Linked DNA regions of Homo sapiens: all the other regions are reported to be linked to region 2. Evidence: microRNA targets listed by miRTarBase, many of them from high-throughput screens and not tested one by one. Region 2 holds a microRNA gene; each other region holds the end of a gene's coding sequence.

Region 1 (3,098 bases), not on the chromosome of region 2:
AAAGCGGCCTGGCTGCCAGCAGGGTCACGGCCAAGGGTACATTTGAACAGTCTGAAGAAAAAAACAAAAACGAAAACCAAAACCAAAACCAAAACAAAAACAAAAACAAAAACAAACAAACAAAAAACCTCTTGATTTTTTTCTTCTTCTCCCTTTAATTTTGTTAGAGGAAATCAAGTCTGATACACCAACCAGCAATTGGCTCACTGCAAAGAGTGGCAGAAAGAAGAGGTGCCCTTACACTAAGCACCAAACGCTGGAATTAGAAAAAGAGTTCTTGTTCAATATGTACCTCACCCGCGAGCGCCGCCTAGAGATCAGTAAGAGCGTTAACCTCACCGACAGGCAGGTCAAGATTTGGTTTCAAAACCGCCGAATGAAACTCAAGAAGATGAGCCGAGAGAACCGGATCCGAGAACTGACCGCCAACCTCACGTTTTCTTAGGTCTGAGGCCGGTCTGAGGCCGGTCAGAGGCCAGGATTGGAGAGGGGGCACCGCGTTCCAGGGCCCAGTGCTGGAGGACTGGGAAAGCGGAAACAAAACCTTCACCGCTCTTTGTTTGTTGTTTTGTTGTATTTTGTTTTCCTGCTAGAATGTGACTTTGGGGTCATTATGTTCGTGCTGCAAGTGATCTGTAATCCCTATGAGTATATATATATATATATATATATATATATAAAAACTTAGCACGTGTAATTTATTATTTTTTCATCGTAATGCAGGGTAACTATTATTGCGCATTTTCATTTGGGTCTTAACTTATTGGAACTGTAGAGCATCCATCCATCCATCCATCCAGCAATGTGACTTTTTCATGTCTTTCCTAACACAAAAGGTCTATGTGTGTGGTTAGTCCATGAACTCATGGCATTTTGAATACATCCAGTACTTTAAAAATGACATATATATTTAAAAAAAAAAGATTAAGAAAACCCACAAGTTGGAGGGAGGGGGACTTAAAAAGCACATTACAATGTATCTTTTCACAAATGAATTTAGCAGTTGTCCTTGGTGAGATGGGATATTGGCGATTTATGCCTTGTAGCCTTTCCCTTGTGGTGCATCTGTGGTTTGGTAGAAGTACAACAGCAACCTGTCCTTTCTGTGCATGTTCTGGTCGCATGTATAATGCAATAAACTCTGGAAATGAGTTCACTCCCTCTGCTTTCTGAAATGGAAATATGTTATGGTGGAAATGAAAGCCTATGGTGAGATTATCTTCTGGTTACACTCCCTGTTTGGGGCATTTGGGCAGGGGAGTGATAGACTAGTAGGGGAAGGGAGATGGGGGAGAAAAGCTGGAGGAGGCCTAGGGTGTTGGATTTTGGCAGTGGTTGGGGGAGAGGAATTATAAGCTAGCTTGAGAGTGAAGTTTTCATAATTGGGAGGAAGGGGAGTCTCCTCTTTCCTTTCCCAGTCCCCAGTGATAGTAACATAATTGCGCTCTCAATGGGTGTGAGCTTTCCTCTGGCCTGAACCTGGTAAGTAAGCCTATACCCCAAGCCACTTTCTCCTCAAAGCTTCCCATTTGTGTGTTTTCTCCTCTTTGGTTTTGGTTGTGTTGTTTTTAATGCTTTCAGTGGCATCTTGGTGATTTCTGGCTGGCGAGCAATCATCAGGGGCTAGGTTGAAGCTAGTCTTGCCCACCTGGAAGTTGCCGGCCTCCATTACAGGAGCAAGGACAAACAGCAGTGTAGCACTGCAGCGGATCCAATTCTGCCCCCTTTCCCTCAGCCCTACCCCCATCCCAAGCGCAAGACAGCCAGACCCCAGAGAAGCCGAGGATGGGTGAGTTTTCCCATCCCACTTCGCCTTGATCTCCTTGTGGACGGGTTTTATGCTCAGTCATTACCTTTTAGTGGCCCACATGAAATTTTGTTAAAGGAAGAAATGAAAAGATTTTCCCCAGTCAGTCTTTCCTCTATTTAATTACAAAATGCTGGTGGGAACTGCTGCATCTGGGATGCAAGAAAATGCAGAAAGGGTGACTGAAAATTTTGCAAATGAACATGACTTCCCATGAAGTCTAATGTTCCATTCGCTGCCATGGTCCAGGGGACTCCCACCAGCTTCCACCGGCTTCAACAGGATCTCCACTAGAGAGCCCAGACTTATCTAGTCCTGTCGGGGAAAAGGGAGAAGAGGCCTTGCAGGAGAAAGCTAACAGAAAATTCGTTACCTGAGGTCCTGCCTGCAGTTTCAAATAGCTTCCAGCAGTTTTACAAAACACATCCTTTCCATTTCTTCCTTTTAAATGTTTCCCTAAGAACGATCCATTTAGGTGCTATAAGTCCTCAGCCAGGGAGTCTCTGGGACACTGGCATTCAAAATTTTAAACTTCCGCCCCAAAACCAGGAACATTCCAAGACAGAACTCTTTTAGGGGGCCATTTCCTGGGGGTGGGGGAGAGGGCTTGGAATCAATGCTAGATTGAAAACGTTGTAATAGCTTTGCCCCAGACTTAACACCGGTTGGGCAGGAGGAGGGTAATTTTTATTTAGCCGTTTCTCCGATCATGTGGGGAATACCATTAGCTGTTGATAGCGGGCCATGTATCCGAGGAAAGCCTGAGCTACAAGGCAAAGGCATCCCATCTGGAACAAAATCAGAAAGCTATTGGCAAAGGTAATCAATCAGGCCATAAATAGCCATTTACCCGCTTCCTTTTCGGGGCTGGAGGTGGGCCGGGAGCCCTCCAAGGGTGAGCTGGGCAACTTGTAGAGCAAGGAATATGCCCTCCGCTGCCGGCGCCCCGGCCGCTTTTGTCTGGGCTCCCAGCCGGGCTTCCGAGGCTTTGTACCATGGATTTGGGAGTGACAATGGGCATTTCCCTCAGATTCAAGGCTGCTCAACCTCACCTCTGTAGGGGGAAAAAAATCAGAAGGGAGTGTCCCAAGGACCTAGCCATTCGGCCGAATTTTTTAGACATTTTGGGAGTCTCCTCCGAGGCCTTTAAGTGCGAACCGCGCGAAGCGGCCCTGCCCGGGGAGACTCGCTGAGGCAGGGCTGAGGCGGCGGGCGGGAGCAAGCTGCTCTAGCATTTGGGTTCTGCCCTGTGGCGTGTTCTCTTCCAGGGCCTTTCCAGCATCATCGGAGA
Region 2 (3,107 bases):
CAGTCCATACCAGCCCCTGTTTCCCACCCCATTGTCAGAGAAGGCTTGTCTAGTCCCACAAAGGCCATTTGTAGTTTATGTGTGCCCTTAGAGCTACTCCTCGAAGGAATATTATGCAGCTATAATATTATGCAGCTATGAAAAATAATGGTTGCTAGGACTGTGTAGCACGAAGAAAATGCTCATGGTATAACAGAAAGGATGCAGAATTATGTACTTATTATGATTACAACTCTAAAAACTCACAGATGAAGAAAATAAGTAGGGAATGTACAAGAATGATGATGGAATTGGGATGATGGAAGGGTCTGTGTTTTAACATTTTATAAAACAAAGGTTTAAAAAATAACAGCACCTTAAAAATTAATGACTGCTGAAGTAGGCCTGTGAGGACTCCCTACAGTACTCTAGGATCATATAGCCTTTGTGTTTACATTGAGGGTTTTTACAGGAAAGCCAAGGAGTCCTTCGGCCAAGGTCAAGGTTAACATAACTGATGATGTGAATCCTTTGTTTGAGGGTTCCTACCTTAGCTCACTCCCATCGTATTAGGAAGGGTGATGGGTACTTCTAGAATGCTTCACAATGGTCTGAAGTCTTTCTCTGCCTGATGGCCAGAGGTGGATATTATCTATGAAACTGTTTTGGAAAACCTGCAACCCAAACCATAGTTTTTGTGCCTAATAGGGCACATTGCAATAACTTTTGCATGAAATATCTTCCTTGCCTTTATAAAGGAATTTATTTCCCCAATTAAAAAACAATAACAACAATCTGCACCAAAATCAGCCAGTCTTTTGAGTTGAATCACTTCTCTCCATTCTCTCCCAAAACCTTAAAAAAATCCTCAGGGTACTGTCAGTAAACAATTGCTTATTACATCCCTATAACCCTACCCTGGTACACACACATGCCTTCAGTATAAAATGGATGTGTGTTCCTTCTGGGGAGTATTCACACTGCTTTCAGGAAGAGTTTGGGGAGAGACAGTAATTTTGTCTAAAATGCTCTGCTCACCACCGTCTCAGGTTGCCTGTTTTTAAAGGAGAATGGCTCATGGTCTTTGATGATGATTCTGGTACATTTCCACCTCAGGCTCTTAAAACTTAAGCATCACTTTTTGCCTGGGATCTCCCAGACATGCACCGTTGAATCTGCTGTTCACCTGGGGAGATGAGAATGTCAGTGAGCGCTGGTGCATGTGCTGACAGTATTGTTAATGGCGCCGTTTCCACATCTGCAGGCAGACTTGTGCTCCAAAGACAGTTATCGGAGTTGCTGCAAAAGTGACCACCCCCTGCAGCCGTAACCTTCAATACTGTGCCTAGTCTCGAGCTCAGTCAAACCTGGATGCCTTTTCTGCAGGCCTCTGTGTGATATGTTTGATATATTAGGTTGTTATTTAATCCAACTATATATCAAACATATTCCTACAGTGTCTTGCCCTGTCTCCGGGGGTTCCTAATAAAGTTTATAAGGCAACAGGAAAGAACACGTTAAAATCACAAGTAGATTTAGAAGATGGAGCACTCATTACAATTCATGTTATCTTCCATTTCTTCTTATAGCATTTGAGACCTGTATCAGTATTACTGGATTACTTGCTTATTATAGAAACAATAAGTGTTGATGTTTCATAAGAGCCTGGGGTATTCTGTGTGGCTTAGTTTTGTGCAGTGATGAATCCTTAAGGAATTCAATATGCTTGGTGGAAAAAACGGTTCCAACCCATGTCTGTGACACAGAATAAAGGTCAGGATTATAGCCTCAAACACATCTAGATTCATGTTTCATTTTGGTTCATTTTTATCCTGATCTTCAATTTAGAAGTTCATGTCAGGGTTTCAGCAAAAATTCAAGGAGCACAGATCAGTTTTCTATGACTTCCCTTTCCACTCACAGTAACAGAATGTATAAAGCAAATCCTCCATACCAGCTGCATGGATACTGAGTCAGTGAGCTTTGTACAAACCTTGGATATAGGACTAAATATATCTCATGAAGGTAATATAATGTTGACTGAACTCTTGAATTTCCTGTTATAGGTTAACTTGTCAGTGGAGGTTGGTAATATTTAGAATAAGCCAACAATCGGAAAGTAATATCATAGCCTAATTGACTGTGGCAGGAAGTTTGGGATTATGATATAGAAAACATTTTTTCTGGTACATAACAGCCTTCTTTGGTTGGTTTTGACCTCTTCCTTATAGAAAAGCCTGTGAAGTATGTGTGAGTTCATTCTGAGTTCTCTCAACAAACAAAATACTTTGTGAGCACTGCTTTCTGGAAAGAGAACTACTGTTCTCAATGTTTTGGAGGAGAAAAGGTGTAAGCAAATGGTTTAAACAGGTAGTCATGAAAGCTTCCCCTTACTGTGTCTAGAAGTCATTGCCACATTGCTTACAGGTGAATGCATAGTGACAGGGTCACCAACAGCAACATCAGAGAGGTGATGACACAGGAGAGGGTCCTGTAATGTTGGAGTCCTGGCTTCTGGAGTTACATAATGGATCCTGTCTCTGGAATCCTTCTCCATTGAGAAGCGATCTGTGTGTGTTGGCAGGTGCTCTGTCAGGCGGGTTTCAAGATGCTGCCCCAATCAGTCCCTCCTTCACACAGCTAGAGAACACCGGCTTTGGTTTTGAGTCCAGTTACATTGTTTGACTGAAATGGCAAATGGCCATGGAAAAGAGACAGCAAGTTATTACGAACAAAGAAAAACATGGTTTCAAAAGGACCTGCAGACGAAGCCCAGTTGTTTGAATTGATGTGATTTTCTTGTTTCTTTGGGTGACTTTGTCACTGACCAGCATGTTCTCTGTAGTGATTAATATGGTGAAGGGAAAAAGGAACCAACTGTTCAGGAAGGAGGAGGACAAATACAGCATTTTCTGTATGGCTGCACTTGGGCTTTGAGTGGCACTCATTGGTTCCAGACCAGGAGCATACAGGGTGTGAAAAGCAAGTATGGGGCCGGGCATGGTGGCTCACACCTGTAATCCCAGCAGTTTGGGAGGCCAAGGTGGGCGGATCATTTGAGGTCAGGAGTTCGAGACCAGCCTGACCAACAGCTGGGTTTCACCCAGTCTCTACTAAAAATACAATAT
Region 3 (3,107 bases), not on the chromosome of region 2:
TGAGCCAGCTTTGACCATGGAAAGAACAATACCCTTGGGTATTAAGAGAACTAACAAGGTAGATGACTCCTATATCCCTTGAATACCTTGTGAAATGAAGCCACTTCTGGATTGCTATGTGAGAAAAAAATAAATTATCTTACATGAGCCATCATATTTTGGGGTCTCTTTGTTACAGCAGTTTAGATCATTTTCTGATTTATACAAAAAGAGAATGAAAACATTAAGAAGGTAAGCTTATTTACCTTTTATGACCTTAAAATGTCCTCTGCTTGTTCTTTTGGGTTTTACCTTTAACAAGTATAAATAAGGTGCTTCAAATTTAATTGGCTGTAAGCAAGTAAGACCTTAAGACTACATGTGACCTTATGAATTCAGTGTGCTTCTCCCCTTTTCCAAAAATCAACCTACAGAATACAGTTGCATATACTTTTTCGGGATAAATGGAAGCGTTTAGTGTAAATGCATGAATATCAAACTGATAAATGAAAACTAAGATTGATATATATCAACTTCCCCTTTTTTCAACACAAATGTATATCCATGCACTATTCTAATCTACTACTCTGTAATCAATTAATCATAGACAACTGAATAAAGATAAAATGGATAAAGCAGACTTCGTCTCCCATAATGTGATGCAGAGATGATTATTTCTCGGACTCCCAGTTTCGTGTTACTCTATGCTTCAGAATAGTTCACTGTGTTGCTAAGACAACAAGGATGCTGCAACCGGAAACTGGGATTGAAGTCAAGGCACTGGAGCTGCCTCAAAAGATGTCATAAATAGTGTGTTCAAGGCCTTTTTCACAGTGAAACTGTAACTTTTGAATTAGAAAAAAAATTATTGGAGCCAAGCACGGTGGTGCACACCAGTAACCCCAGATACTTGGGAGGCTGAGGGAGGGGGATCGCTTGAGCCCAGGAGCTTGAGGCTGCAGTGTGCTATGATCATACCTGTGAATAGCTACTGCACTCCATCCTGGGCAACATAGCAAGATACCCATCTGTTAAAAAACAAAACACAAAAATAAACAGAAGAAGATTATACTCAATTCAACACCTTTCCACAGACTATGATTTTCAGTTATTCACATTCTAAGATTAAGAAAACATTGGCCTGTAATCCCAGCACTTTGGGAGGTGAAGTGGGCAGATCACAAGGTCAGGAGATTGAGACCATCCTGGCTAACACGGTGAAACCCCGTCTCTACTAAAAATACAAAAAAATTAGCCAGGCGTGGTGGTGCGTGCCTGTAGTCCCAGCTACTCGGGAGGCTGAGGCAGAGGAATGACTTGAACCCAGGAGGTGGAGACTGTAGTGAGCCGAGATCGTGCCACTGCACTCCAGCCTGGCAACAGAGTGAGACACCATCTCAAAAAAAAAAAAAAAAAAGAAAAAAGAAAACATTGGTATGTGGACTAAAGGTCAGGAAACCATCACTCCATATATACATATTACAGCTCCATGGAAATAACTGAGGGGAACTTGTCTTTAAATTCCAGTTTACCTTTATTCTAATAGAGGCATGTCTGAAGAGTATCAGAAGAAAACAAATGAAATTAGGTTGTCAGTTTTTCCTCCACTAACGATGTACATCTCACCTAAACAAAGGTTTGATTCTATGTAGTAAATAGGTTTGATGTTCACTGAGACCTGCGATTTGATACTTGGAATTTGAGTTTATAAAAAGATACAAAGAAATATGGTCTTCTCAATCAACTTTTGATAAAGGCACAGAAAGCTCATCAGTAGCAATGATGTGAGCTGGGTTGCATCTCCAGGTTTGTCTAAGCAAACTGCACAATGGCAGCAATCCTCCTGGTTTTAATACTCATAACATCAAGGCAAGGACAAAGAAAAAAAAATGCTTGAACTGATTTTGTTGTTTTTTTCTGACCTACAAAAAAAAAAAAAAATGAAAACAGCGTTTCACTAAGCTGAAGAGTGTCCTTCACATCATGTATATTGTATTGCACACAAACTTTTTTAACTCCGTCAAAAACAACAAGAACAGATGAATAAGGAAGCCCAGTGCTTTTTGAGATAGAAGCCTTCTTCAGAATCACCTCCCTCTCTTAAGAAGTAATCTGGTGAAAAATAATGGTTAGGCAAAGGCAGGTGTTGGAGGATATGTTTTCCCAATCTTTTAGAATCTCTTGCTTAAGAGACACAGAGGTGACTGGAGACTGAGTTACCAGTATACTATTCATTTTCCAAGCAGACGTCAAAAGATACTCTTTAATAGTGGAAACTGAGGGTTACACAGTAAGGTTCAGACTTCAGCAGGAATCCTTGTTGTCAAGTAAAAGTTTAACCTAGCAGAAGCAAATGAGACCCAGATGTCCTCACCTTTTTTTTTTTTTTAAACCCTGGTGTTCTAAGCATAAAAAAGGAAATAGAAAATAACACAGACCACTCTATTTTAATATTTTTAAGTAGCATAAATCATAATGGTTTGTATACTACACTGTACAAATAATATACTGTTACTTTTGAAAGAAAATGAACTTCTTATAGGGTTTTCTGAAATAGTTACTCCATACAGCTAAGATCTTGACCCTTTAGCCATTGCTACAGCAGATGGAATACAAGCTTTGAGGTTCCAAGTCTTCCAGTTGTGCCTGTTTCTGTTGCCACTGAGGGATGAGCCTCTCAGAGCCCTGTCGTGGCCCTGTCCATCTCCTGCGCCAGGAAACACAGGTTCCGCAGGTGGACGCGTGCCGATGAGTACAGCTTCTGTACTTTGCTTTCTACAAGCCTCCTTCCCCTTTAAGAGAACTTGCGCTTCTTCATGGCTTCCGCCTTGACCGCCAAGCTCTTGGCACAGATGGTCAGGACCACAATGAGAACGCCCACCACAAATGTCACCAGGGGCCAGAGGAAGCAATGCAGGAGGACAATCTCATCATGAGTGCGATGCAGAAGCACATCATCTGGTCTGCAAGACAATGGAGAATAAGAAAGAAAGGGCAGTCAAATGCCTTGGCACTGAAAAACTCTTTACAACCTAAAGCCAAACTTGCTTTCCATAACCATTATTGAAAGTAAAGGCTGCACTCTGACTATAAACACTGTATTTTTGTGCTTCAAACCCATTACAGAA
Region 4 (3,107 bases), not on the chromosome of region 2:
ACATAAAGAGCCAGCTTTATGAAATAAGAGATGAGAGAGAGGTGGCAGAGGCGCAGACATTATTTCTTGGTATTTTACATGTATTTCTAAAAAATATTACTTTAAAAAAAAAAAAAGAGACGGACAAAGTGGCAGGCATGGAAGGCCCTGAAAAATCTGTTTCCTGTGGAGGGAGAAAGGCTTGGGAGAAAGAGAGAGAGAGGAAATGACCTGGGAGCCAATCCCACCTGCCAGTCTGCAGGGGAGAAAGGGCAGGTTTGGGGTGCTTGAACTGTGAAGATGGGAAATACAGCCAAGGGTCACGTTTAAAAAACCTGCTAGAAGTGAAGATCGGTGGAATCCTCCCAGGCTGTAATCCCTCAGAAACATGAGAATATCCTAAGCACCTACAACAGTGCCTGGTACATAAAAGGTGCTCGATAAATATTTGTTGAGTAAATTGTCATCTTTACTTGCATATGAACCAGTAACTGTCCCAGCCATGAAGGAGTGCAGAGGAATTAGTAGGTGTTCTTGGGACCGCTGGAAGTCAGGCTGAAGCCTCTGAGCGGCAACTCTAGCAGAGAGAAGGCCGAGGGGCCACGGTGTCTTCAGTTTCCCTCCTTCCTCCTCTCTGGCTACATTCGTCTCCAGGTGGGTGGAGCTGAGGAGGAATGCGTTTGCTTTTCTCTGTCTTCCCCGCTGCCCTCCCGGGGCAGGTGGATCATGAGAGCGCCTAGCCTCAGCCAGTCCTCGTCTGGGATGCCTGGGATAGGGGGATAGGCCTCCCAGATTAAGGCCTCATCCCCCCTCCTCAAGGCGTACTCTCAGCTGGCCCACTGCACATTCCAGGGGGAACAGGGCAAGAAATATCATGGAACTGGGTAGGTAAGGCCCCAAGGCTGACCACACCCTACATAAGACAAGTCCTTCTCTCTGCCCCTTACCCCAGGATGGCGAGGCAGACACCAGGCACAGACCTACTAACAGCCATCTCCCAGGCAGTCGCTACTCAACCCCCTTCACCCAGATCCCCACACCAAGCATCTCCACTGAGGCTGCATGTGCTCCACTGGTGGGTCCTCCTAGGGATGAGGTGGGAGGAGCAGAGGAGACAGTCTGGCACTGCACTGGGCACTAACCTAAGGCTCCACCGGGGGAAACCAATCTGATATCCCCTTTCCATCTCCCTCCTTCCTGCTTGACTTGCCAATGTGTCCTGCTGCTTCCCCCTCCTTCCACTCTGAGGATCTCTCTCTCTCTCTCTCTCTCTCTCTCTTTCTGTCTCTCTCTCTCTGCTACCCTTCCCAACCTGCCCTCAGACACTGCACAGACCTGCTGTTCTCTAGCCACAGCCAGCACTGTTCCCTCTGGGAGCCAATGGCCTCTCCCCATCTCTCATCACCTTGTCTTTGGCTCAAGCAGGGTGGTCAGTCTCCACCGGACCCCAGCGAGCACCCATAAGCAAAGCACTGGGTTTGTGTCAAAGCCCTGGGTCCAGCTGAGGCAGTAGGGTGGGGCTGACGAGGATAGGGATGATGACAAGTGCTGTCCTTGGTGTCAGGCTGGCTCCAGAGGCAGTGTCCATCTCCTCTTCACCTCTAGTCCTCACATAAGATAGCCACAGGTGTGTTCTCCACCACGGCATGTCCCCCATCAGGGAATGTTCCACTGGAGTCACCACAACCCCAGCCAGGGCAAGGCTGAGGCTCCCTGTGACTTGGACATTAATGAGGATGGTGCTCCCCACTGTCATCTCAGGCCCTGGCCCAGGACCACGGTGTGAGTAGTGATGGCTCCAGGGCTGGGCATGGTGGGTGTGTGGACACTGAGGTATCCACGGTCCTCTGGCAGCAGCCCATGGCCCCAGCCTGGCTCCCTGCGGCATTCCCATGGGAGTGCAGGGGCAGGGGGCCAGGGTGGGGAGCCAGGACCTCAGGTGGGCAGAGGACGGCTTCAGAATGTGGCTCTGTGGAGCTTCACAGCATTGGCCTCAGCCAGGGCTTGCACTGGAGAAAAAAGAAATGGAGTGAGAAGAGTGCTGCACAGAGGAGCAAGGACTCCAGCCAACCTTCCCAGGAAAAAGAAGCCTCATCCTGCAAAAACCTGGCAGAAACCCACTCCGGTCCCTCAGTCCTGAGAGGGGAACAAAGGAAAGGAAGTCAGTGTTCTTTTCTACTTGACTGAGAGTGAGCGGCTGTGGGCTAGGGGCAAGGGAAGGGTTCACAGCCTTTGGCCGTAGTTGTCAATGTTATTTTAATTTACAGTAAGATCTGGGAGTGGAGAAACAGCTTCTGAGGGCTTCTGAAGGTTCTGCATCTGTGTATCTCAACAGATGGAAAGCTTGTCAGCAGACAGGAGGCACAGGGGTGGGGTGTCAGGGAAGAGCCTTCCCTGAGAGCAGACAGGTGAGGTCTCGGCTCCATTCCCTGCCTGCTTCTGGAGAAGCAAAGGCCATTGGCATCACAACATCCAAGAAGCGGCCCTGCCAGCTGGCTCCAGCCCAGCACTGCGTGGGGAAGCTGGATGGACGGATGGATGGATGAATGGATGGATAGTGGGGAGGAGCAGCACAGGGCACTGGGGTAGGGGAGAAGCAATACCAAAATGAGAGGGCATAGATGGCTCAATGGGGGTGAAGGAAGGGGCCCCACTCCCGAGGTGGATGAAATACAGTAGAAAAGTGCTTACGTCAGAGCTCAGACCCGCATGGTATAGCTGCTGTCGGCGCCCCGTGGGGATTCAGACGACAGGGGGTTTGCTGGAGGAGCCGGGGAAGCAGGGGAGGTGGGAGGGCTTGGGGTGGCACATTGCACTGGAAACAGAAATGAACAGGGAGGTGAATGGGGGTGGGTGGGGGAGGAGGGTGGGCACCCAGAGCAAGCGAGGCCCTCCCCAGGCAGGGAGTGAGGCAGGGAGGCAAGCGAAGAGAGAGCACTGAGCTTGGAGCTTGCTCAAGCTAGGCCAAGCTGTCCTCATTCCCAGGGCGTCGTGGAGGAGAGTGTGAGGCCCCAGAGGAGACCTGGCCGAATCTAGGCTCTGCTGAGAACCAGTGTGACTGTGGGTAAGGCCAGGCCATCTCTGGGCAAAGGGCTCCCCTCCCATCCACACAATGGGGAGATTCACAC

The links. The annotated mature microRNA hsa-miR-190a-3p reads CUAUAUAUCAAACAUAUUCCU and lies in region 2 at 1,412-1,432, shown strand. An mRNA with a match to its seed (bases 2 to 7 or 8) in the 3' UTR can be bound and repressed. Matches are read on the target gene's strand: a 7mer-m8 pairs with bases 2 to 8, a 7mer-A1 pairs with bases 2 to 7 and ends in A, and an 8mer does both.
Region 1: miRTarBase lists HOXD10 as a target of hsa-miR-190a-3p. Seed matches in the 3' UTR shown: 7mer-m8 at 651-657, 7mer-m8 at 653-659, 7mer-m8 at 655-661, 7mer-m8 at 657-663, 7mer-m8 at 659-665, 7mer-m8 at 661-667 and 7 more.
Region 3: the mRNA of KCNMB4 is a reported target of hsa-miR-190a-3p. Seed matches in the 3' UTR shown: 7mer-m8 at 503-509.
Region 4: miRTarBase lists PLEKHA6 as a target of hsa-miR-190a-3p. The part of its 3' UTR that is shown has no 7-base or 8-base seed match.

The regions. Positions count from the first base shown.
Region 1 is chr2:176,118,787-176,121,884 of GRCh38, forward strand. HOXD10 (homeobox D10) reads left to right here. Exons shown (of 2, transcript NM_002148.4): 2 at 168-1,151. The coding sequence ends at 445. Among named protein-coding and RNA genes, the nearest start is that of HOXD9, 2.4 kb to the right of the region's middle.
Region 2 is chr15:62,822,597-62,825,703 of GRCh38, forward strand. MIR190A (microRNA 190a) reads left to right here and starts at 1,361; the gene lies at 1,361-1,445. All of the region lies in intron 54 of TLN2 (talin 2), which reads left to right.
Region 3 is chr12:70,430,320-70,433,426 of GRCh38, reverse strand. It overlaps KCNMB4 (potassium calcium-activated channel subfamily M regulatory beta subunit 4), which reads right to left. Exons shown (of 3, transcript NM_014505.6): 3 at 1-2,942. The coding sequence ends at 2,774. Among named protein-coding and RNA genes, the nearest start is that of PTPRB-AS1, 36 kb to the left of the region's middle.
Region 4 is chr1:204,220,792-204,223,898 of GRCh38, forward strand. PLEKHA6 (pleckstrin homology domain containing A6) reads right to left here. Exons shown (of 23, transcript NM_014935.5): 22 at 2,671-2,794; 23 at 1-1,988. The coding sequence ends at 2,679. Among named protein-coding and RNA genes, the nearest start is that of GOLT1A, 8.4 kb to the left of the region's middle. RefSeq lists enhancers at 1,310-1,811, 1,812-2,311.